Homo sapiens: one gene and its partners. The protein of the gene in region 6 purifies or fractionates together with the protein of the main gene of each other region. This does not show direct contact. Each region holds a gene or a part of one and is shown on either strand. Other genes may lie near its edges. The genes, in order: BRAT1, ZDHHC5, COXFA4, IPO13, INTS12, ALDH3A2 and DYM.

Evidence for each region.
Region 1: the proteins of ALDH3A2 (region 6) and BRAT1 purify together in Homo sapiens (affinity purification with mass spectrometry; 2 studies listed by BioGRID and IntAct, with this or other methods). This does not show direct contact.
Region 2: the proteins of ALDH3A2 (region 6) and ZDHHC5 purify together in Homo sapiens (co-immunoprecipitation; one large-scale study listed by IntAct). This does not show direct contact.
Region 3: the proteins of ALDH3A2 (region 6) and COXFA4 purify together in Homo sapiens (co-immunoprecipitation; one large-scale study listed by IntAct). This does not show direct contact.
Region 4: the proteins of ALDH3A2 (region 6) and IPO13 purify together in Homo sapiens (affinity purification with mass spectrometry; 3 studies listed by BioGRID and IntAct, with this or other methods). This does not show direct contact.
Region 5: the proteins of ALDH3A2 (region 6) and INTS12 purify together in Homo sapiens (affinity purification with mass spectrometry; 3 studies listed by BioGRID and IntAct, with this or other methods). This does not show direct contact.
Region 7: the proteins of ALDH3A2 (region 6) and DYM purify together in Homo sapiens (affinity purification with mass spectrometry; one large-scale study listed by BioGRID and IntAct). This does not show direct contact.

Annotation. Positions count from the first base shown.
Region 1 is NC_000007.14:2,549,025-2,552,524, forward strand, and holds part of BRAT1 (integrator complex assembly factor BRAT1), read right to left. Parts: intron 1,942-3,500; exon of another isoform or gene 1,846-1,941; intron 101-1,845; exon of another isoform or gene 42-100; intron 1-41. UniProt on the Homo sapiens protein: Component of a multiprotein complex required for the assembly of the RNA endonuclease module of the integrator complex.
Region 2 is NC_000011.10:57,674,614-57,678,113, forward strand, and holds part of ZDHHC5 (palmitoyltransferase ZDHHC5), read left to right. Parts: intron 1-3,500. UniProt on the Homo sapiens protein: Palmitoyltransferase that catalyzes the addition of palmitate onto various protein substrates such as CTNND2, CD36, GSDMD, NLRP3, NOD1, NOD2, STAT3 and S1PR1 thus plays a role in various biological processes including cell adhesion, inflammation, fatty acid uptake, bacterial sensing or cardiac functions.
Region 3 is NC_000007.14:10,934,299-10,937,153, forward strand, and holds part of COXFA4 (cytochrome c oxidase subunit NDUFA4), read right to left. Parts: intron 1-2,855. UniProt on the Homo sapiens protein: Component of the cytochrome c oxidase, the last enzyme in the mitochondrial electron transport chain which drives oxidative phosphorylation.
Region 4 is NC_000001.11:43,966,236-43,968,522, reverse strand, and holds the end of IPO13 (importin-13), read right to left. Parts: intron 1,949-2,287; coding exon 1,882-1,948; intron 1,800-1,881; coding exon 1,741-1,799; intron 1,594-1,740; coding exon 1,504-1,593; intron 1,209-1,503; coding exon 1,027-1,208; intron 938-1,026; coding exon 841-937; 3' UTR 501-840; downstream 1-500. UniProt on the Homo sapiens protein: Functions in nuclear protein import as nuclear transport receptor. Serves as receptor for nuclear localization signals (NLS) in cargo substrates.
Region 5 is NC_000004.12:105,702,190-105,705,689, forward strand, and holds part of INTS12 (integrator complex subunit 12), read right to left. Parts: intron 3,202-3,500; exon of another isoform or gene 3,125-3,201; intron 1,621-3,124; 5' UTR 1,459-1,620; intron 835-1,458; exon of another isoform or gene 697-834; intron 1-696. UniProt on the Homo sapiens protein: Component of the integrator complex, a multiprotein complex that terminates RNA polymerase II (Pol II) transcription in the promoter-proximal region of genes.
Region 6 is NC_000017.11:19,662,251-19,665,750, reverse strand, and holds part of ALDH3A2 (aldehyde dehydrogenase family 3 member A2), read right to left. Parts: intron 2,419-3,500; coding exon 2,252-2,418; intron 804-2,251; coding exon 704-803; intron 1-703.
Region 7 is NC_000018.10:49,331,646-49,335,145, forward strand, and holds part of DYM (dymeclin), read right to left. Parts: intron 2,209-3,500; coding exon 2,083-2,208; intron 362-2,082; coding exon 219-361; intron 1-218. UniProt on the Homo sapiens protein: Necessary for correct organization of Golgi apparatus. Involved in bone development.

The DNA of each region.
Region 1 (3,500 bases), on a different chromosome or scaffold from region 6:
TGTTGAAGGGTTTTGAAACAAAACAGAATTAAAATACTAACGACAATAATAGAAGGTTGTGATGGCCTGAAGTTCAAGTGCTCTGAGGTCCTTCGGTTGCCTGGATAGAGAATGGAAAGTCTAATTAACTTCAGACTTTTTAAAAAATCCGGTTCTCATGTTAAAAATATAAGGGTAGCCACTGAAGAACACAAATAAGCCTGTGGTCCCAGCATCTTGAGAGGCCGAGGTGGGCAGATTGCCTGAGCCCAGGAGTTTTAAGACCAGCTTGGGCAACACAGGAAGATCCCCTCTCTATAAAAATTCGCTGGGCATGGTGGCGCGCATCTATAGTCCCAGCTACACTGGAAGCTGAGATGGGAAGATCACCTGAGCCCAGGAGGTCAAGGCTGCAGTGAGCCGTGATTACACCACTGTCCTGGACAACAGCACAAGAACTTGTCTAAAAAGAAGAACATAAATAGAATGTATAACTTCAAAACCAGAAGAGGAAAGATTTAAAAGAAAAAAAAAAGCTTTATCAATCTGATGGAGGGCAGAAAAGGAGGATAAAGGCACAAAGGTAAGGCACAGGAAATTAAAAAATACAAAAGAATTCAAATCTAACAGTCGCCTCAACAAATTAAAGAGATCAAACTTATCTGTTAAAAGAAAGAGTTGCTGAGATTAAATTAAACACTAAAAACAAGCAATGTGGTGTTTCTAAAAGCAATAAAATGCAACGACAGGAAAGGCTGGGAGCAGGAGAGAAAAGACACAGTAGGCAAATTCTAACTTTAAAGAAGCTGATGTAGCAACAGAAATAGCAAACAAAATGGGCTGTAAAGCAAAAAGCAGTATTCATGCAGAAGTAAGTTAACTGATCACGGAGATAAATTCCAGAAAGACACAACATTCCTACATCTATGTATACCTAACCTCACTTCAAAACGTGTAAAGCAGCCTGGGCAACGTGGTGAAACCCCGTCTCCGCAAAAAAATACAAAAAATTAGCTGGGTGTGGTGGTGTGTCCCTGTAGTCCCAGCCATCCAGGAGGCTGGGGTGGGAGGATCACTTGAGCCCAGGAAGTTGAGGCTACAGTGAGCCGTGATCACACCACTGCACTCTAGCCTGAGTGACAGAGTGAGACCCTGTCTCCAAAAAAAAAAGAAAAAAAAAATGCCAGGCACAGTGCCTCACACCTGTAATTGCAGCGATTTGAGAGGCCAAGGCGGGCAGACTGCTTGAGCCCAGGAGTTTGAGACCAGCCTGGGCTACATAGTGAAACCCCGTCACTACAAAAAATACAAAAACTTAGCCGGGCGTGGTGGCGGGCTCCTGTGGTCCCAGCTATTAGGGAGGCTGAGGTGAGAGAATCATCTGAGCCCAAGAAGTCGAGGCTGCAGTGAACCGAGATCATGCCACTGCACTCCAGCCTGGGCAATAGAGCAAGACTCCATCTCAAAAAAAAAAAAACAAAAAAAAAAAAAGAAAGAAAAGAAAAAGAAAAAAATAATATGTAAAGCGAAAAAAAAAAAAAGGATGCATCTCAAAGAAAAATCATGAATCCATGATCTTGGTGTAAGCTTTTTACACACCTCTCAGAAACAAGCAAACAAATTAGCAAGAACATAGCAGGTCTGAACTAATGAACGAGTGTGGAAACTACACTCTTTCCATCAAGTACAATGCAGGAGAAATGACAGAGGCTGGGAGGGAGGAGGAAACAGGGACTCACTGTGAACCCAGACTCGGTTTCTTTAGGGGGAACAAAATTAGATTGTGCTGATGATTTCAGAGCCCTGTAAATTTACTAAGAACTGTTGAATTGGTACCATTTATTTATTTATTTTGTCCATTTCTCATGTCAGACGGGTCACGTACCGACATCATACCAGGGTTCCATGGTGCCACATCTCACACATGCGCCTGAACACTCAATTATCATGCTTAGGTTGGGTGCAGTGGCTCTCCACTGTAACCCCAGCACTTTGGGAGGCCAAGGTGGAGGGATCACCTGAGGTCAGGAGTTCGAGACCAGCCTGGCCAACATGATGAAATCCCACCTCTACTAAAAATACAAAAATTGGCCGGGCATGGTGGCATGCACCTTTAATCGCAGGTACTCAGGAGGCTGAGGCAGGAGAATCGTTTGAAACCCAGGAGGCGGAGGTTGCAGTGAGCCAAGATTGTGCCATTGCACCCCAGCCTGGGCAACAGAGCAAGACTTGGTCTCAAAAAAAAAAAAATCTATATCTATATATATATCTATATATAGATATATATATATCTCATGCTTACAAACTGTAAAAGGATCTGGTACACCTTAAATGGGAGAATGGCATGGTATGCAAATTATATCTCAATAAAGCTACTGAAAAATACTTCTTAAAATTTAAATACAGGCCAGGCATGGTGGCTCGCTCCTGTAATCCCAGCACTTTGGGAAGCCCAGGCGGGAAGACTGCTTGAGCCCAGGAGTTCCAAGCTGGCCTGGACAAGATGGTGAGACCTCATCTCTATGGGAAAAAAAAAAATAGCTGGGCCTGGTACACACCTTGATCCCAGGAACTCAAGAGAATGAGGCAGGCGGACTGCCCAGGAGGTCAAGGCTGCAGTGAGCCGTGTTCACGCCATTGCACTCCATCCTGGGTGACGCGCAAAAACCCTGGCTCAAAAAAAAAAAAAAAGAAAAAGAAAAACTGACTACTACAAACTAGGCCACAGTTGAAGACCTTCAAATACCAAAACATCAAAATCATATAGTGAAATCTCTAGAACATTGAGAAAACTCGCCTGGGTCCTATGTCTCAATAAAAGTCTCAACAGCTATAAAGATTCAAAACATATGTTATGTTTTCTAACCTCCACAAAGTAAATTAAAAATCAATAATAAAAAGACTGGAAAAATCCATATTTTGAAACTAAAGGATACTCTTTTAAGTAACTTGTGGGTGAAAAAAAAATTATAATGAAAAGCATAAAATACTCAGAACTAAATTAAAACCAAAGTACTGCAATGTAAAACGTGTAAGATGTAGCTAAAGTCATACTTTTAGAGAAATGCATAGTCTTAAATATATATATATATATATATATATATTTTTTTTTTTTTTTTTTTTTTTTTTTTGAGACAAGAGTCTCACTCCATTGCCCTGGCTGGAGTGCAATGGCGTTATCTCGGCTCACTGCAACCTCTGCCTCCCAGGTTCAAGTGATTCTCCTGCTTCAGCCTCCCGAGTAGCTGGGATTACAGGCATGGACCACCATGTCAGGCTAATTCTTGTATTTTTAGTAGAGACGGGGTTTCACCATGTTAGCCAGGCTGGTCTCCAACTCCTGACCTCAAGTGATCTGCCTGCCTCAGCCTCCCAAAGTGCTGGGATTATAGGCATGAACCACCGTGCCTGGCCTTAAATATATATATTAGAAAACAAGGAAGACCTAGATATTTAGCTCAAAGAGGGTAAAAGGCACTTTGGGAAGCAGAGGCAGGTGACTGCCTGAGCCCAGGAGATCG
Region 2 (3,500 bases), on a different chromosome or scaffold from region 6:
GAGATTATTGGGGTGGAGGCAATTATACACAAGTTAAATCTGAGGTAGGAGGGAAGGAAAACTCCCCATATTTAGCTTTAGAAGCCAAAAGATATTCTGAAAAATGTGGGTCACATTGTCTAAAGAGTCAGCAAAGTAATACTGATGTATTTCTCTAGTTTTTAAAGAAGGAGAGAAAGAATCACTATCTAAGGCATGAACACCATCCTACTTCTCACCTCCTCTGAAGCAGAGAAGTTGTAGATTTTTTGGCCCCCAGCTCTGAGCTTGAGCATACCTGCTGGAGTCTCTCAAGGATCTAGAGACAGTGCTGCTTTTCTCTGACTTAATATTTTCTTCATAACCTTTTCCTCTTGCTTAAACTCAACATGTTCAGTGCTCTGTCCTTCTTCATACATTTACTACCAGAAAGAGGGGTGAGTCTTTGGTGTCAGAACTTGTTTTGGTTTTTGCTAATATGGCCAGGAAGTAGAATCAAAATTTTAACTAAGGGACATTTATATTATATCTTAGTATCCTGTAGCAATTTTGGTTCTGGGTCAAGAGGGGTATGTACAAGACCAGTTTGACACCCTTAACTCTGCTCAATTGGGGAGGGTCTATTTTCCTTTAAGAGGCAAAGCCTTTGGAGAAGGAAATTGAGGGGACTAAATGATTTCTGTCTTTCAAGCTCCCTCTTCTTGAGATAGAGCAAGCTGAATCCTTGTTTTTAATTTGCTAATCTGGAACCATTGAAGTGTTTGACTGGTTATACCAGTTTGCCTACAAAGAGTTGTCCTGACATAGGCATTTTCTCAACTGATAGTTGAAGCTGTTTAACCTACTTTCTCATTCCCTGGTGCCAGTAAAGTAGGAGCCCTCCTTATTCCATGGTCTCTTAGCTCTAGGAAAAAGGATTTTGGAGGACAATATTGACCTTATTTGGAATTATTGCCTCTCATCCAAAGTTAGAAGAACCCTAAGTCATAGCTGGAGTTCCTTCCCCCTGGCGCTAGTTTCCACAGGACCAATTTCTGGGCTCCATCTTTTCCTAAGCATCTCCCCTAGTCACCTTGTGGGGGCACAAACACACTGTTTATCTTACTCTAGCACCTAGCTCGGGTAATTCTGAAATTCTCATCTCCTCTTCTCCATCTGACTAGAGTATTTCCTCTGTAAGCATATATCTGGGCTGAGGCACCACTGTTCTTAAAAACTATCCTCTCATGTATTTTACCTCTTTCGAGGTTCAGTTCCCTGGAGAATCCCCTGTTTAAAACCATACAACCTAAAAAAGAGTTCAGGGTTTCAAATGGAGAGGCAAGAGGAAAACTCTCTGAACTAGCTCCTATGTGGGGCTGTAAATCTGTAACTACTCTATCATCCTCCTATTCTCTTCACTAGGCTACAACTAGCTACATTATTAGAAGCCCCAGGTGAGAATTACTTTGGGATATAGAGGAATGCGAGTAGGAGGGAGAGTCCCTTTCAGGTAACAGACATAATTAGTGGAGGCATGTAGACTTCAACTAGTTAGGAACAATTTACCTTCCATGTTTCTTTGTTAAGTTGGGGAAAGCTATGAGCAGAAATTACTAGTTGAGTTTGCATCAAAGAAATAGTGATCTGCCCCAGAGAATCTTGAACAGAACAGTTCAGGCCTTCCTCCTGGAACTCTAATCCCTCTCATTCCCTGAATTTGTCCAGCACTAAAACTAAGGAATGGTGGGGATCCTGTCTTAATTCTTCTCTGTTTTCACTATTTGGGAGGGAGAGTGTCTGCTGAAGTAACCTTCTACCTCCCAGTTAGTTACTAGACTTCATTTAGGATAACTACTTGGATGCTTATCTATCTTAGTTTAATCTTGTTTTTTGACTGGCAGAGGGGCAGTCCTAGGTAAGTGGGATAAGCCCTCTTTGGGGGAGGTCAGGAGATTGATTCTGGTGAAGTCTGTTAACCTTTGTGGACCTAAGTTCTTCCTGTTTACAGTGAGAACGTTGACCTACAGCAGTTTGTTTAAGCAACATGACCCTTTTTCAAATGAAATCTTATATACAAAAAAAAAAACCAACATAAAAATTAGGGCTGCTCTGGTTCAAGTGAGGCTGGCATATAGAGGCCCAGCCCCTTGGTATCGCCTCTTTACCGTGTAGGATCTCCTGAGACCTAGTGCTCCTGGTAACACCATTTCGAATCACTTTGAATTGTATCTTGTTTAAAGTCTCATCAAACTGTGAATTAGTCCAGTTAAGGTCTTATTTTATCCATTTCTAAAGCTGGTGGGAGGGGGCAGGATAAGATCTCTGCTTCACGTGATTTTTTTTTTTTTTTTTTTTTTTTTTTTTTGAGATGGAGTCTTACTCTGTCGCCCAGGCTGGAGTGCAGTGGCGCGATCTCGGCTCGCTGCAAGCTCTGCCTCCTGGGTTCATGCCATTCTCCTGCCTCAGCCTCCCGAGTAGCTGGGACTACAGGCACCCACCACTACACCCGGCTAATTTTTTGTATTTTTAGTAGAGAAGGGGTTTCACCGTGTTAGCCAGGATGGTCGTGATCTCCTGGCCTCGTGATCTGCCCGCCTCAGCCTCCCAAAGTGCTGGGATTACAGGCGTGAGCCACCACGCCCAGCCCCTATTTTATCCATTTCTAAAGCTGGTGGGGAGGGGGCAGGATAAGATCTCTGCTTCACGTGATTTTTTTTTTTTTTTTTTTTTGAGATGGAGTCTTACTCTGTTGCCCAGGCTGGAGTGTGGTGGTGTGATCTCGGCTCACTGCAACCTCTGCCTCCTGGGTTCAAGCGATTCTCCTGCCTCAACCTCCTGAGTAGCTGGAATTACAGGCGCCTGCCACTAAGCCCAGCTAATTTTTGTATTTTTAGTAGAGTTGGGGTTTCACCATAATGGCCAGGCTGGCCTCAAACTCCTGACTTCAGGTGATCCACCCACCTCGGCCTCTCAAAGTCCTGGGATTACAGTCGTGAGCCACCGCACCTGGCCACTTCACGTGATCTAAGGGAAGGATAAAGTCAGAGTTGTATGGAAATCCATGATGGTCTTTTCAGGCTCCCATCCATTATATAGTTTGCGGCTTTTCAGTTTCTGCCTCAGTCCTCTTCCAACCCTTTTACCCACAGGAAGTTGGCCGACCTCCATGGAGTTCTCTCTGGTCCCCCCTCCCCCGTAACTGCAGAGGTATTAGCACCTGATTTGAGTGGGAGCAGCCTTGTGATTTAGCACATTAATGGAGCAGTGGTTGTGCCTTTTCCTTCTCACATTGTTTTCTTATCCAGGAATAAGTGCCCAGGTCCTACGTCTCACATTCAGCTGGTTGAAAGTCTGGGTACCACAAATCAGGTGTTTTCAGAGAAACTGGGTTGCCCACCTGTAAAGGGAGAAATTGTTTTCTCATGGAATCTTGAGGAAAGGATTTCTAAATGAGGATCCCCATGGGCAGGAAGTGGAACATTCATTTCAGCCTTCTCTCATCAACAAGGAACACTAGTCATATGCTCAAGCAATATGCT
Region 3 (2,855 bases), on a different chromosome or scaffold from region 6:
TTGCTGTTTACATTTCCAACATTTCTTTATAATCAATTAATATTAATTTTTAGAAATAAATCTTACTGTGATTGCTTTAAAAAAAAAAAAAAAAAACTCCCTCTCTCAGTAACTTAAAAAAAAATGACATATTTGAAACTGGTCCAGAGTTTCTACTAAGGACATATTAATGCTTGTACACAAGCCCAAATAAGGCTAAAATCTTGGGTTTACTCATTCTTGTGCCAAAGAATGCTAAAGAGGTTGTGCTATAATTACTTGAAGACTATGTTATTTATCTCCAAAAGAACCACAATTTCAGAATGATAAACATTTTCTTCAGGGTTTTTAAGCATGAAGTTCACAAATCTATATTCATTCTTTCTTCAAACCCCTTTTATTTCTTCAAATATACCCGAACTTATTTATTTCTGAAAAACTCTTAAGTATTTTACTGACAAAAAAAATCCTCAGGTTGTAAAGCTTATTACCAAGTTATCGTTGAGATACAGACAGATACAGACTTTTATGGACAGAAAATTATAAATAATCCATAAAGCAGTATTCTTTGTTCTGACAGTGTTCTTTTAAGAAACAATTAACCTAGACAATAAGGTTAAAAAAAGAAAAAGAAACTACTTGTGCTATCCTCTAACATATTAACAAAATATCAGAAATAATTTACAGAAGGGTCTGCAGGTATATATTAAGGACAGGAAAATAAACACTTGTTGGGCTCCTGCCCAGGCACCGGGCTAGATGCTTTATGTATATCTTAGTTAATCATCACAATAACCCTTCTGATTCTTAATTTATAAAAGAGGTAATTGAGATCAAGTTCTACGATTTGCAGGATCAAGGCCCTACACCCACGCAGAGTCAAAAGCACATTCATGGCATTGTTGCCAATTTTCTTAAAACTAAGCAGGCTCCTGATTTACTTGCTTCATATCCAAAATTCTCTCTAGAATTTTAAAACCTGCTTTCAACTTCCCTACCTCTATTCTTTTTCTCAGTTTAATGCTGGCTACTTTTAGAGTCTCTGAAACAATAGTTGGGAAGGCACAACATATTCTGATCTTAGCTTTGGGGAGCTTCAACTGTTATTCAGTTGAGAAGTATTGCTGGGCCTTTAATGCTCAAATCTTATTTTGGTCCTGTCTCTTGCTGTTTTATTCATAGCTTTTGCTAGATTATAGCATGGCAACAAATAATCCTCTGCTACGGACTGAATGTTTATGTCCTCCCAAAATTCATGTTGTAACCTCAAACGCCAATGGTGATGGTATTTGGAGGCTGGGCCTTTGAGAGGTAATTAGGTCATGAGGGTGGAACACTCTAACTAGTGCCTTTACAGGAGGGCTCACTCCTCTCCTTCCATATTGTGAGGACACAACTGGATTGGGCCCTCATGAGGAACAGAATTGGTTGGCACCTTGATCTGGACTTCCCAGCCTCCGGACTGAGGAATAAATTTGTTGTTTAAGCCACCTGGTCTACAGTATCTTGTTACGGCAGCCCAAATTAACACATTCAAATCTTAGCGGCTTACAACGACAAAAGTTCACTTTTCACTCACATTATATGCCATCTGTATGCTGATTGCTCCATATTTGTTTCATTCCAATTCTAAGGTGAATAAGTAGCCCTTACTTGTCAATTTTGGTCTCATGAGAGAAGCAAAAGAACGGAGGGACCACATAATGGTCCAAGAGTGGCAGGTATCATTTCCTCCAACTCATAATTTCCCACAGCAAGTCACAAATCAAATCTGATGTCAGTGGGCCAGAAAAACATATTCTCTTAGGTGAGAGATTGTGAATGATGGAGATAATAATCTAGTCTACCTGAATGGGTTTAGAAAAAGTATTAAGTAGGTTTCATTTACTCCAGCTTCTCAAGTTTCTGGATTTGGTTCCTTTTCATTTCTGTCATTTCATAACATGACACTCTTCATCTTTCCAGACTCTGCTATCAGTGTCATAGCTATTAACAGCTATGTTGTTACAGCAACATTTCATTTTCGGTTCCCAAGGCCTCATATTGGCATGTGTTGTGATATTTCAGAACATTAGTAGACTGGCTGCATTATCGGAATCATCTGTTACACTTTTTGAACTACACATACCCATAGATTCCAATACGCTCTTTGGTGGAAGAATCAAAGCCTGCTAGTTTTTTTGTTTGTTTGTTTACTTTTTAAAAGTTTCTTGTATGTGGAATTATTTTCTCTGGAATGGACTTAGTTTAAACAAATTCATAAACAATGTCATAAGACATAAAAACAAATCAGGATGCCCGTTTATCTTTTTAGAGGCAAAATATAACACAGATGAGATCGATGTTTCAGCTTAGCCATTGCATTTTTATTTTCTTCTTGTAAGGAGATTTACTGAAGGATTTAGAAGCCAAATTATAATCAGGTTAAGGGGAAAACGTGAAATCCACAAAGGGTGATGTTAAAAGTTGCTATCAGGCTGCGGGCACAGTGGCTCACGTCTGTAATACCAGCACTGGGGGGTTGAGACAGACGGATCAACTTGAAGCCAGGGGTTCAAGACCAGCCTGGCCAACACGGCAAAACCCCATCTCTACTAAAAACACAAAAAATCAGCTGGGTGTGGTTGTGCGTGCCATAGTTCCAGCTACTCAGGAGAGTGAGGCAAGAGAATCACTTGAGCCTGGGAAGTGGAGGCTGTAGTGAGCCAAGATAATGGCACTGCACTCCAGCCTGGGCGACAGAGTGAGACTCTGTCTCCAACAACAACAACAAAAAAACGTTGCTATGAGTAATAATCCATCATAGATGTACACCTGTCAAGCAGTGCTGGACACACACTGATCGGGGACCCTGTTCTTCAGAGTGATAAATCAAA
Region 4 (2,287 bases), on a different chromosome or scaffold from region 6:
GGTGCTGATTGATCCCTGACCATCCTGTGCTGGAGGTCCTGTGTAAGCGGGGAGCAGCGGACATATGGACAACCTTAGGTCCTACTTTCCTCTTTTCTCCTCTGCGGCTGAGATATCTTCTCTCCTTCACCTCCCTGCCACCCACCCACCCCCCAATACACACACACTCAGCCCCTTTCTATAGCCCTCCTCAACCATATGCAAGTTCGATGTTGTATAACTCCACACCAGAAACCCCTCCCGGAAGTCAAAACTCCACTCCATTTCTTCCTTCCTAAACGGACCCAGCCCTACCCCACTTGCAGCCCAAAGTCTCAAGTCCTCTACCTAGAAAGCCTACTATTCCTGTCAAAAACTTTCTCCATGCAGCCTTCCCTCACTTCCTACCATTCTCCATGGTAGCTATGGACTAGATCAACCTTTGTTCAGGGCAGAACGACGCAGGACAGAGCTAGGGGCCTAATATTCGGCGGTGTTGATTAAATAAATGTATGCATACATGCATGTTGGGATTAATTTAATGGGGATGGGGGGGTTGATGACACTACTGCAACCACCCCGCCCCAAGGACAATGACAGTATTCTGAAGGGCTCCAGCCTAGGTGGCTTGGCTACAGTAGTATCTCTTCCAACCTGGGAGCTAGAGGATGTTCCCACCATTCCCTCCCAAGGCCTGGGTCCAAGCATCCTCCCATCCTTCCCCCAGGCCTTCTGGACCCAGGCTTTCAGTTAGGTGGTGGTGACAGCAGAAAGGAGGCAGAGACAGCAGTGAGGGTCCAGGTTTACTCTTTGGGAATAGGGAAGGATGAAGAGAAGGGGTGGATGGGATGGGGGCACCCCTCAGTAGTCAGCTGTGTAATCTGTGCCATGGAGACCCCGGCACAGCAGTGTGAACTCCTTCACCATCTCCTTCACCCGCCTCTTGTTCACTCGCTCGCTGAAGGAGAAAAGGGAGAGCAGGTTAGCACCAGCCACCACCACTGCCCCCTCTCTGCCTGACCCCAGGCCCACCCCAGCTCTGCTCACCGAAGGATCTGCTGGCTGAAGGTATCCTTCTGTTCAGGGCTGAGGCGGGCAGAGGGGAAACCAGGTGGCTGCAGGGCCTCCTTGATCCACATGCTCAGGAGGCTGAAGCAGTGCTTGTTCAGGGCGAACAGGATATCGGCAAAGCAGTCCATGAGGCTGCGGGAGGCCTGGCCCCCAATGGCCTGAGGGAGAGGGGTTCTCAGCACACCAGGGTGTTGCCCCTTCCGCCGCTTCTGCAGCAAGAATGCCTAACTGCCCTCTGGACAGTTCCTAAGCCAAACTGCACATCACAGTGAGCGCTGCTTTTTGAGAGCCAGCTGATCCCCACAGCAATCCTAACAACTTTCAGGCATTTAATTGAAGAAGAAACAGAATCTGAGAGCTTAGGGGACCAAAGGCTCAAGCCTCCCAGAAGGCCAGCTGCCTCAGCAGTGAGGGGCCCTCACCCCCATCAAACCCCCCTTTGCTCCGTCTCACCTCCAGCACTGCTATGAGCAGCATACGACCGTCTTCCTGTACCACCTTTCCCACAGACTCTACTTCCCCACACCGAGGCAGCAGCTCTGTCTGCAGAGGATGGAGAGGCCCATCAGCCCAGCTCCTTCCCAGCTCTCCCTGAGGACAAGACCTGTACACCCCAGCCCTACTGTCTGAAGTCCTGGGCAGGGGAGGGCACTGGGGTGGCAGTGGGTCAGGGTTCAGCATGGGACTCACAAAGAAGCCACAGGAGGCCTTGACAGTAGGTGCCTCAGGGAACTTGAGGGCCAGCACAGCTGTGGGAAAGGCAGAGGCAGATCAGTTTAACGATCCTTCTAGGGGAGCCCCAGGCCCACCTGTCCATCTCGCCCCACTTACCACACTGGAACACAGCTTTGACATCCAATCGTTCACACAGGAACAAATCTGGCTTCCGCTTCAGAGCCTGCAGGAGGTGGAGCTGGTAAGCCCAGCCCCAGCCAGCTCCAAGGACCATCCCCCCCACTCACCTGCCACCCCAGCCCCCAACTTCACACCTCACAGGTAGAGGCTGCCAAAACCAGCTACCCAGCCATCTCTGGGGGACCCGGACCACCTCAGAGTTCAGTAGGTCAGGTGAGGACAGCTCAAGGGATGCTATGTACATGTATGTGTACATGAACACGCAGGTGTACGTGAGAGAGGTTGGGGGTGGGGATCATAATGCAGAAAGTTTGGGTTCCAGACACCTTTCCCTCCCCCTCCATCAGGGCCAGATGTCTCGCAGGCTCTAGGTTGCCAGCAG
Region 5 (3,500 bases), on a different chromosome or scaffold from region 6:
CAGTGGCATGATCTCGGCTCATGGCAAGCTCCGCCTCACGGGTTCATGCCATTCTCCTGCCTCAGCCTCCCGAGTAGCTGGGACTACAGGCGCCCGCCACCACACCCGGCTAATTTTTTGTATTTTTTAGTACAGACGGGGTTTCATCATGTTAGCCAGGATGGTCTCGATCTCCTGACCTTGTGATCCACCCGCCTCGGCCTCCCAAAGTGCTGGGATTACAGGCGTGAGCCACCGCGCCCAGCCAATTTATTTCTATTTCTATTTATTTTTTAAAAATCTATTCATATACAGAGTGATAATAGTGTGTTATATAATTGATCTTTAACCTCAAGGAGCTTTATCTTCAGCCAGTGAAATCTGAAACTTGCCACAACTATTGTCCTCTTTTATTACAATCAATTCTCCTTTCTGACTACAATCTTCCATTACTCTATCTCTTCCACTGCCTTAATCCAGGGACCTCTTCAAAGTGCCAAGTCAATCTTTCTTCTGTATTTATTCATTTCTCTATTCCCATTCTACTTGTTCTTTGTTACAGAAGCCTCCAATTTCTTGTCCCTTCTGCTTTCTCCTTATTGGCACCCTCTTGCCCTGACTTTTGTTTCCTCACCAAACAGAAAACAGTAGTTGAACCTAAAATAAAACACTTATGGTTATGTGGTTTATATTTTATATTTTAGTTTTCTATCTTACCTTTACTCCCCCTTTTCTGTTGCCTTCTCTAATCTCTGTTACTTTTCCTTCCTTACCGGCAAATATCCATATAGTGAAAGAAGTTTACTTTCTACAGCAGTCATAAAGAGGTCAGCAACTTGGTGTAACTGTGTTGATCTACACATACAAAAATATTTTCCTGGAGTTACACCAAATCATGTTACTTCTATACAATTCCTTTCCTGTATATTCATTCCTAAACCCATGGCCAAAACAGACTGCAAAAGAGCCATATCATTCTTACTATGGATTAGAGTTCTAGAAAACAAAGTCCTGTGTGTGTGTATGAAAGAAAAATGTATATATGAAAGATATTTAATATATTAAATGTAGGTTTCATTTAAAAAGTAGATGTTGCTTTCAAAAAGGAGAATGTGAGAAAATTAATATTTACCACTTTAAAGCTTTCGCTGACCTAGGGAAGTGGTAGTAGTAGTATTGATAGGAGTGAATTCTTAGGTGATGCTGGGAATTAGCTGTGTCAAATGCATATAGCACAAAAATCGCCATTACTGAACAATGATCTTTTTTCTGTATCTCTTATTATCCTTGATTTATTGCAGTATGCCGTTTACTTCCTATCCAGCTCACATTCTGTGGTCCACCCTTTCAATACCTCTTTCAGTACTCTAGGCACCCGAAAGCCCTGTAGTTTCCCTACTTTATAGACATCCACCCTGCTAGCCATTCTCTCTCTGCCTGCACCCAAACTCTAAGTGCAACTGGGAGGAATATACATACATTCTATCTTCAGAATCACCATTCTCAGCTTGGCGTTCAGTACAACTTGGCAATTCTCTCATCCTTCTCTGGTCAACTCACTTCCCCACTTTCTGCAAAGATCAGTTATACTTCCTCCATTTTCTTTTAAAATTGCTTCTGTGTTTCAGTAGATGGCCTCACCTACTTCACAAAGAGAGGCTGTCAGAGAGGAATTAAGTCGACTTCCTTCCAGCACATCTACAAACTTACCTGCACTCATCCTTTCCTCTTTCCCATCTGATAAAAAAGGAGAAGGTAGCTCTCTATGTAGTGTCACCTGGATCTGGATCCTATCTCTTCTTGTCCCCTCTTGAACCTTGGCCTATGGATTATTTCCCATATCTTCTTTTTTTTTTTTTCAGCCTTTCTACTGGCATCTTTTCATTGACATTAAATATATTCAAACATCTTCTATCTTTTCTCTTTTATAGCAAAACGTTCTCAGAAATCATATGCTTTTGTACTCTTTTTCTTCATTCCTTCTATTTACACAGCAATTCTTGCAATTCAGCCTTTGTCCCACTATTCCATGAAAATGCTCTCATGAGTCATTCGCCGCCTCAGTCAGGTAAACCTAATACATACGATTGTCCCTCCTACTTCTTTGTCAGTCATCTTTGTAGGTTCCTCCTATCCAATTAAAAATGAGTTCCTCAGTGCTAGGTTCTGGGTCTCTTCTTGACTTGTTCTACATCTTCTTCCAAAAATGTGTTCTCTGAGTCAGCAGCATAGGTATCACGTCAGAACTTAGAAATACAAACTCTTGGTCTCCATTCCTAGGCCTACTGAAGAAAAAACTCTGGGAGTAGGGTCTAGAAATCTGTGTTAAGCCTTCCAGGCAATTCTATCTACTCTAAAGTTTGGGAATTATTGCCCTAGACAATTTGATCTATATAGTCTTTTGCCAGTGATTACTAATACATCTCTGCAGTCCATGTGTCTCTCCCAAGATCCAACTGCCAGCTTGACATGGATATATCATTGGTGCCTCCTATGCAACGTGTCTCCAACAGAGCCACTCATACACTATTCCCTTTTCTCCTAACCAGTTCTTCCTCTAGTAATCCCTTTTTCAAATGATATTTACCCTATTGCCCAAGCCAGTAACCCAGAAGCAGCTTTAACTCTTCCCACTTCCTTAATTCCCACCCCCAATTCAATAACCAAACCTCTTAAACATACCTCAAATCTATCCACCCTTTTCAATCCTTACTACTACCACCCTAGACCAACCTAGCATCATCTATTATCTGGCCCACTGCAAAAGCTTAATCAGTCTCCCACAATCACTCTTGTCATCCCTTTAAACCTTTTCATATCACTCACTTGCTTAAAATCCTTTTATCACTTCTCACAATCCAAAGGTTCAAGAATAAGATTCTTAACAAGGTCTCCAATTCTCTACATCAGGGGTCCCTAACCTTCAGGCCATGCAGCAGGAGGTGAGCAGTAGGCAAGCGAGGGAAGCTTCATTTGTATTTACAGCCACTCCCATCACTTGCATTACTACCTGAGCTCTGCCTCCTGTCACATCACTGGTGGAATTAGATTCTCATAGGAATGCGAATCCTATGTGAACTGTGCATGTGTGTGATCTACGTTGTGTGCTCCTCATGAGAATCTAATGCCTGATGATCTGTCACAGTATACCCCATCATCCCCAGATGAAACCGTCTAGCTGCAGGAAAGCAAGCTCAAGGTTCCCACTGATTCTACATTATGGTGAGTTGTCCAATTATTTTATTATATATTACCATGTAGTAATAAGAGAAATAAAGTGCACAATAAATGTAATGCACTTGAATCATCCTGAAACCATGTCTTCAATGAAACTGGTCCCTGGTGCCAAAAAGGTTGTGGACCATTGCTCTACATGATTAATAATACATATAAAGCAGTTACAACAGTACCTGACACATAGTTGACACTCATTAAATGTTACCTAGTATCTTAGGCCATTCTCACTCTCTCTGTTATAGCTATCTGACTTATTTCAAGTCCTCCAATATACTCTTTCTTAC
Region 6 (3,500 bases):
CTAGCCTAGGTCCCAAAGGAGAAATAAAAAGCTGAGTCAGTCATCTCACATGTGGGAGAGGCAGGCAGGTCATGTTCTAAAGGGAAAAGCAAGGATCAGGCTATGTCCACAAAGCTTCACTTGGAATGAATTTCTTTCTGCCCATCCTCTCTAGAACAGGGGGAGTCCCGTTTTACTCAAATCACAAAACAATTCAAGGAGAGGCTGCTCCTCCCAACAAAGGGCTGGGGAACAATGCAGGTAAGAACTGAGCAGAAAACAAAGGCACATTAGAAAACCCCTCTACCTTCTGTCCCTGGTATTCCGAACCTTTCATTTGCTACTTCATTAAACACACACACCACACACACACACACACACACACACACACACACGAAGAGAGATCTTCTTAATTAATTTGAGACCTGATTCTTGGTTCCCAAATCTCCTAAATGTGGCAGGATAACAAAATCAACGAAGTGAACAAAGCTGTGGTCAGTCAGTGCTGCTGACAGAAAGAGAGTGACAAGACATTTGCCCTATGCTGGAGGGGTGGGTGGGGAAGCAGGAAAACCAGTCAACTGGGTGACCAGGAAAAGGTCTCCCTCAGGAGAGGACAATCAGGGTACGCAACAGCTGGCTATTTCAGCAGCCCATACAATCCACTCATGAAATGGTGGTGCTTTTGAAATATCTACTACAAGCAGGAGAAAATAAGACTCACCCACTCCTCCAAATGGGAAAGAGTTGAGCGTGAAGTGCATAATGACGTCATTGCCTGTGACACCTCCACTGGATGTCTCATCAATCATCCGTTTGATGAGCTGAGGACAGACCAAAGGTGTCCAGGTCAGTGAAGTTGCCCCTTAGGGAACACTCATGGCCCCACCACACAGAGGGCTGTGTGCTCAGTTATGTGCTCAAAGCATGCACATTCTGGCTTTGTGTCAGTGAAAATTCTCGAGTTTGGGGACACCATGCCAGATAGACAAACAATCTCAACTGGTTAATTTAGCAAAGTGACTGATACCCAACTTCTCAGACACACATCTAGTGCACAAAAGGAGGCAGCTCCAAACCTCTGGGCCTACTCAGCCACAACCTGGAGTTGTACTCCCCAACACAGCAGCAAAAGACTCTTTAAAAGGGGACAGCTTAGACTATATTCCAGCTTTAAAAACTGTTATTATTTCTTTCTTATCTCTGCTTTAAATTATAACACATGATTAATAGGTATTATTTAGTCTTTATGAAATGTAAAAATATTTAAGACTTTAGATTTAGCATCCTATTTTTTAAGAAATAAATGGTTGTTTGGCCTAAGGCTCAGAAAAGCACAAGAACACTTGACTAGTAAACGTCATTTACCCTTGGGTGCCAGCAAGCCCTTGACAATTGTTCATGGCAAACGTCAAGTCTGGACTATAGTGACCTCGGGTGACCCACTGCTGGGAAGTGCTCCACACCTGACTTATACCCTGGCCAGCCTACTTTCGGCTTCAGGGTTCCTTCCTGCCCACATTATCCATGGTTTTAAATGTCAAACCATTGTTTTGTTAATAACCCAGTCTTTACTGAGCCCCACACATTTGGTCTCACTTCAAATACCTGTAGCTATCTGTATCTCAATAGTCTCACAAGCTCCAAAAGCTGTCACATGACTATCTATACATTACCATCAGAAGCTCTCCAGAAAACATTTGGGCCATGGTCTCTTAGTAGCGGCTGGTCACCTAGTGACATGAATGAGTGAGCCATGCAGAAAGTGGCAGAACTGCTCAACCAGGTGATGCAGTTCCACCACTCTAACAAGAAGCTAGCGTCATGTTAGAAACTAAAATCCATCATATCACAACCATTTATGTGACAGTGTCGGGGTCTTTGTCCCACACAGTGGGTGTGAATGCCATTTTGTGCAGGCTGTTATTCAGCAATGCCCTGTGGATTAACATCAGAAAAGCATTTAATGCTGGCACATATAAGTCTTCCAATTATACAGGAGATGTTTGTGAATCAAAAACCTTGTGACACTCAACCCTGCAGACTCAGATCTAACCCGAGGGAGGAGGGGAATGGATGCTGTGATAACCCCAGAGTCTCATTAACCAAGACAGCAACCTCGGAACACAACCTCACTTAGTGGATGGACTCTGACATGACACAAAAGAAACCATCATTGTTTCACATTGTTTTTTGCATTGTTTTACAGCAAAGAAGGAACATGACTCTTGACAGTTGCTTATGCTAACTAGCTGTTCTCTCTAAAGCTTACCTTATGGTTATGCGAAAATACATAAAGAGCCAGAGGCTTTTCACGTTCATTTATGAAATTTATGGCCTCATCTACATTTTTCACAGGCACTATTGGAAGAATTGGTCCAAAAATTTCTTCTTGCATCACCTTGGTTTTAGGATCAACATCGGTAAGTACTGTTGGGGCTAAAAAGAAAATAAACAAAATGAAAATGCTTATTAGACAAAAATGCACAACTCTCATATTACATCTCTTTCATTGGGTCACTTATCCATGCCTTTCCCTCTCCCACCCAAGTCATATCTATTGAAAAATCCTGAGCACGTGGATGAACTGTGCACATACTCAATGTCTCCAAAGCCTGTGAATCACAACCCTGCGGATACTTGTGCAAACCAAGGGAACGATACACACTCAAATATATCTTTTTCACATTGAACCCTGTTCACAGCCATGCATGTATTTAACTGTAGATTATACTTAACATTTTTCTGTGGACAGGTTTTTTTTTTGAGATGGAGTTTCGCCCTTGTTGCCCAGGCTGGAGTGCAATGGTGCCATCTCGGCTCACTGCAACCTCCGCCTCTGGAGTTCAAGTGATTCTCCTGTCTCAGCCTCCCGAGTAGCTGGGATTACAGGCATGCACCACCACGCCCGGCTAGTTTTGTATTTTTAGTAGAGATGAGGTTTCTCCATGTTGGGTCAGGCTGGTCTCGAATGGACAGGTCTTTCTAGGAGCAAAGACAGCTCCTCTGTGAATCAAATCAATACTATTTTTCTTAACTCGAGTGCTTTCATATATATGATCTCATTAACCTTTATTATAACTCTGTTAGACAGATTAAGAAAACAGACTTAAATGGTCAAAATTCCCTAAACCTTAGTCCACTGTTCCATCTACCATGGGGAAGAGGCACAAGAAAGGAGGGTGAAACAGATGCTGGGGAGGCTAGACAAAGTGTCCCAGCATCTGCTGCCAATGTAAGTCACCAACTAGCAGTACTCCAAAAGATGCTGTAAGTAAGAAACTGGCTCGTCAACCAAAAGAGAAGTCATCTGACAATAACAAGTTGGCACTTTTCCTTTACCCCCAGTTTCTAATAGGTTATCTTGGCAATGTGGCTGGGGACAGCTTCTTGCAGCACCACTTCCAGGGGGTATATAAACTGCCACTCCAAATCCATTGCCCACATCTTCCTCAGGTCAGAGAAACAATTTGGGCTGAGTGTCTACTTCCTCTGCATAGCCATGCTCAGGTAAGATGATC
Region 7 (3,500 bases), on a different chromosome or scaffold from region 6:
GTTTTGTAGGTAATCCATTCATTATTTGCATACATTTTACATAAATCACCGCACAAAACAGAAAGATTAATATTTTAATTACTTTGTTTTCACATTGAACCAGCTGCACAAATTCAATGTAACTATTAATGGTGGCAGCCAAGCAAACAGAATTTCTTATGCCTAAATAGATAAAATTTATGTGCACCAAAGAATTGAAAAAATCTGATAAAACTTACTTGCTACTCCTGATGCAAGTCCATAAAGCAGTCCTCCCCCATCCGACTGCTGAGGGAAAACATGGGCCCCTGGAGGAGGTGGCTTTTCTTGTCTGATAAAGTTATATAATAAGGTCTTCACAAGTTTGCTGGTGTATGGAAGACTATACAAAAAGGAAAAAAAAATCAAACTCATATTTATGGGAGTCATCTAATTCTGAATAACAATACAGAAATAATTCTGCCATTAACACTATCTGTTAATACAAAAGGGCTATTGGCACAACTCACAGAAATTGAGCACTGCACACAACAGTGAAGACCATGGGCTTTGAGAGCAATTTTGAGGCTTAATCCTTGCTTTTCCTCTTATCACATCATAAGATATTGATCAAATTACTTAAATACTTTTTTTCTGCAGTGGGGAGAAACAAGGTCTGGTAGAGACAAGGTCTCACTATGTTGCCCAGGCTGGTCTCAAACTCCTAAACTCAAGCGATCCTCCCGCTTCAGCCTCCCAAAGTGCTGAGATTACAGGCGTGAGCCACCGTGCCCAGCCCACTTGAACTCTTGAACTCCAGTTACTTTATCTACATTCGGTATAACACTGTGAGCTATTATAAATTTAGTGCATAACACATTATCTGGCAATTGAAGGGAAGTAGTAATAAAGAATCAGTAGAAAAAAGCAAGAATTTAAAAATAACAATAGGACTACACTTTTTAAGTATGAAATTATTCAATTATTCAATTGGTATTAAACTAATTCCTGCAATATAGAGTAAACTTTTTAACAGATTCTTTAATGTACTATTGAGCTTTTTAAATATGGTTTCCAAGATGAACCCCAAAAATAAGTAAAGAACATATTACGGTTTAAATATGTGGCACCATAATGATACTATAAAAACCTTACTTAGAAAATAAGAACACTAACACCCTCTATGTCTATTTTTAAAAAGCAACTTGAATACTCTGGCACTATAAGGGATGAAGTTCACAATCTTGTTTCAGCAAAGATGCACACAGTCCCACGATGCCAGCACTACTTCAAACCACGGTCATTCTGAGTGTCATTCTGAGTGTCTCTGTCAGAGAGGGTTCCAATGCAAACCTCTGACTCCAAAGCCCAGATCCTTTCCCTCAGTGATTTTCAAATATGTTCAAAGAACATACATGCCACAGGAATAATCAGGGTAGCAAAAAGAATATGAAGAAGACAAAGCTCCCCACTATCTGAGAACTTTCCTCAAAGGTACTTTATTTGGATTTGTTTTACATTTTTAAAGTTTTGTGAAGATTATGTTAATAAAAGGTCAGGTATGTGCATATGTGTTGGTCATTTGCATCCACACCCTCTAGGAGATCGTAAGCTTCTGCTCAAGAGCATAGCCCCACAGTCTAACATGCCTGGCACATGGATAGCACACAGCAAATATTTGCAGGCTCAAAGAAGTAGGAATAGTCAGCGAAGAGGCTGCTGGAGAAGTCCAAAGAGAGTAAGGGGGCATAGATCACAGGTGTTTCAAAGGGACTGCTGAGAAGAGGAAGATACAAAAATAATCTGAATAACAAATATGACTTGACTGCTTAAACATAGACAGAATGAAGGAGATGGAAGAAAAAGATGATTTCAAAGTTTCAATTCTACGAAGCAACCACTGGAGAAGGTAATGAAGCTACGGGACAGGAAGAACAGGGAGGATGGGTAGATGGCACAGGAAAGTAGAATGCGGTTCCCTATGCACTGGGTTTAAAGAGACAATAGAACAACTAGAGGAAATACCTGGTTGGAGATATGGGACGATACTCAGGTAAAAGGACAAGACTAGAAATATAGATTTATACAATGAAAAAACTAGACATACTTAAAGTAGAAACATACCATGGACCTCGCATCAAATACTTGTGGCTGATGCTCTGTCGCAAAACTTCTTTGTGGAAGAGTTGGCAGGAAAGGAAAACAACCATTGTTGATATAGCTTCTACTGATATTTCATATGTAATATCTCTAAAATGGAAGAAAAACAGAGTAACAGTCACTTTGGAAGATTAAGACACTATTCTTTTCTAAATGAACTATACATTTAAAAACTCAAATCTAAATATTCAGTATTTTCAGGTTACTGAAAAATGTTAATACGTTTAATACAAAAATTAAGTCAAGCAAAAATATTAAACTCCTTCCCTGTCATTAGCTGGTGTATTTGGGTTAGTTATCCCTTTATTTCCCTATTTTCCAGTTTCCATCTCCTATTAAATGACAAGTCTATTTATGTATAATGGAAATAGTTACTAGCAGTGTTCTGTTTTGAAGATTCACTCTAGACATCTATGTTCATTTCTGTTTAGTGATAATACAGAGACAAATACTCAGATTGTAAAGCTGAAGAGAAGGTACAGTGTAGGGAAGAAAACAATGCCTTTTCATGTTGATGATCACTTTACAATCAGAACAATAATACACCCTAGATCTTGTGTCTCTAGTGCCTACCTTTCTCAAGGTCAACTTTGCATGTTCAGCAAAATATTAACAGTAAACAAGTTATTCCTGTTTTATTAAGCATATTTTGATTATGAAGGGTTACTCTGTCCTCTCAAGATCATAAACCCCTTTGGGAAACAAGTCTTAGATCAAATAAAAAGAAAAAGATTCAGCTGAACAGAAAGCACACAGAGGAATAAAGGCATCCAGAAATTTCCAGTTACTGCAAAAGTTTAAACAGGATTATAATGGGGAACATGTTAAGACCAAGGAAGTAGAAACCTCAACAACGCAGTAAAAAGAGCAATAGCACCAAAAGAATACTAAAATATTTTTATAAAAATGAAATAATTATGAAAAACAAAGAAAAATACTTAACACCTACTTAAATGAAAGCTCATTAAACAAATTAATGATGACTTGATTCTAGAACTAGAAAAATTTAAATTCTACCAGATATCTTAAGGAGTTATTACTGATAGAAATATGTTTAAAAGGCCAGGCTCAGTGGCTCACGCCTGTAATCCCAGCACTTTGGGAGGCCAAAGCGGGTGGATCACCTGAGGTCAGGAGTTTGAGACCAGCCTGGCCAACATGGTAAAACCCCATCTCTGCTAAAAATACAAAAAATTAGCTGGGCATGGTGGCGGGCACCTGTAATGCCAGCTACTAGGGAGGCTGAGGCAGGAGAATGGCTTGAACCTGGGAGGCGGAAGTTGCAGTGAGCCAAGATCGTGCCATTGCACTCCAGCCTTGGCGATAAGAGCGAAACTCCATCTCAAAAACAAAAAATAAAGAAAGAAAAAGAAATATATTTA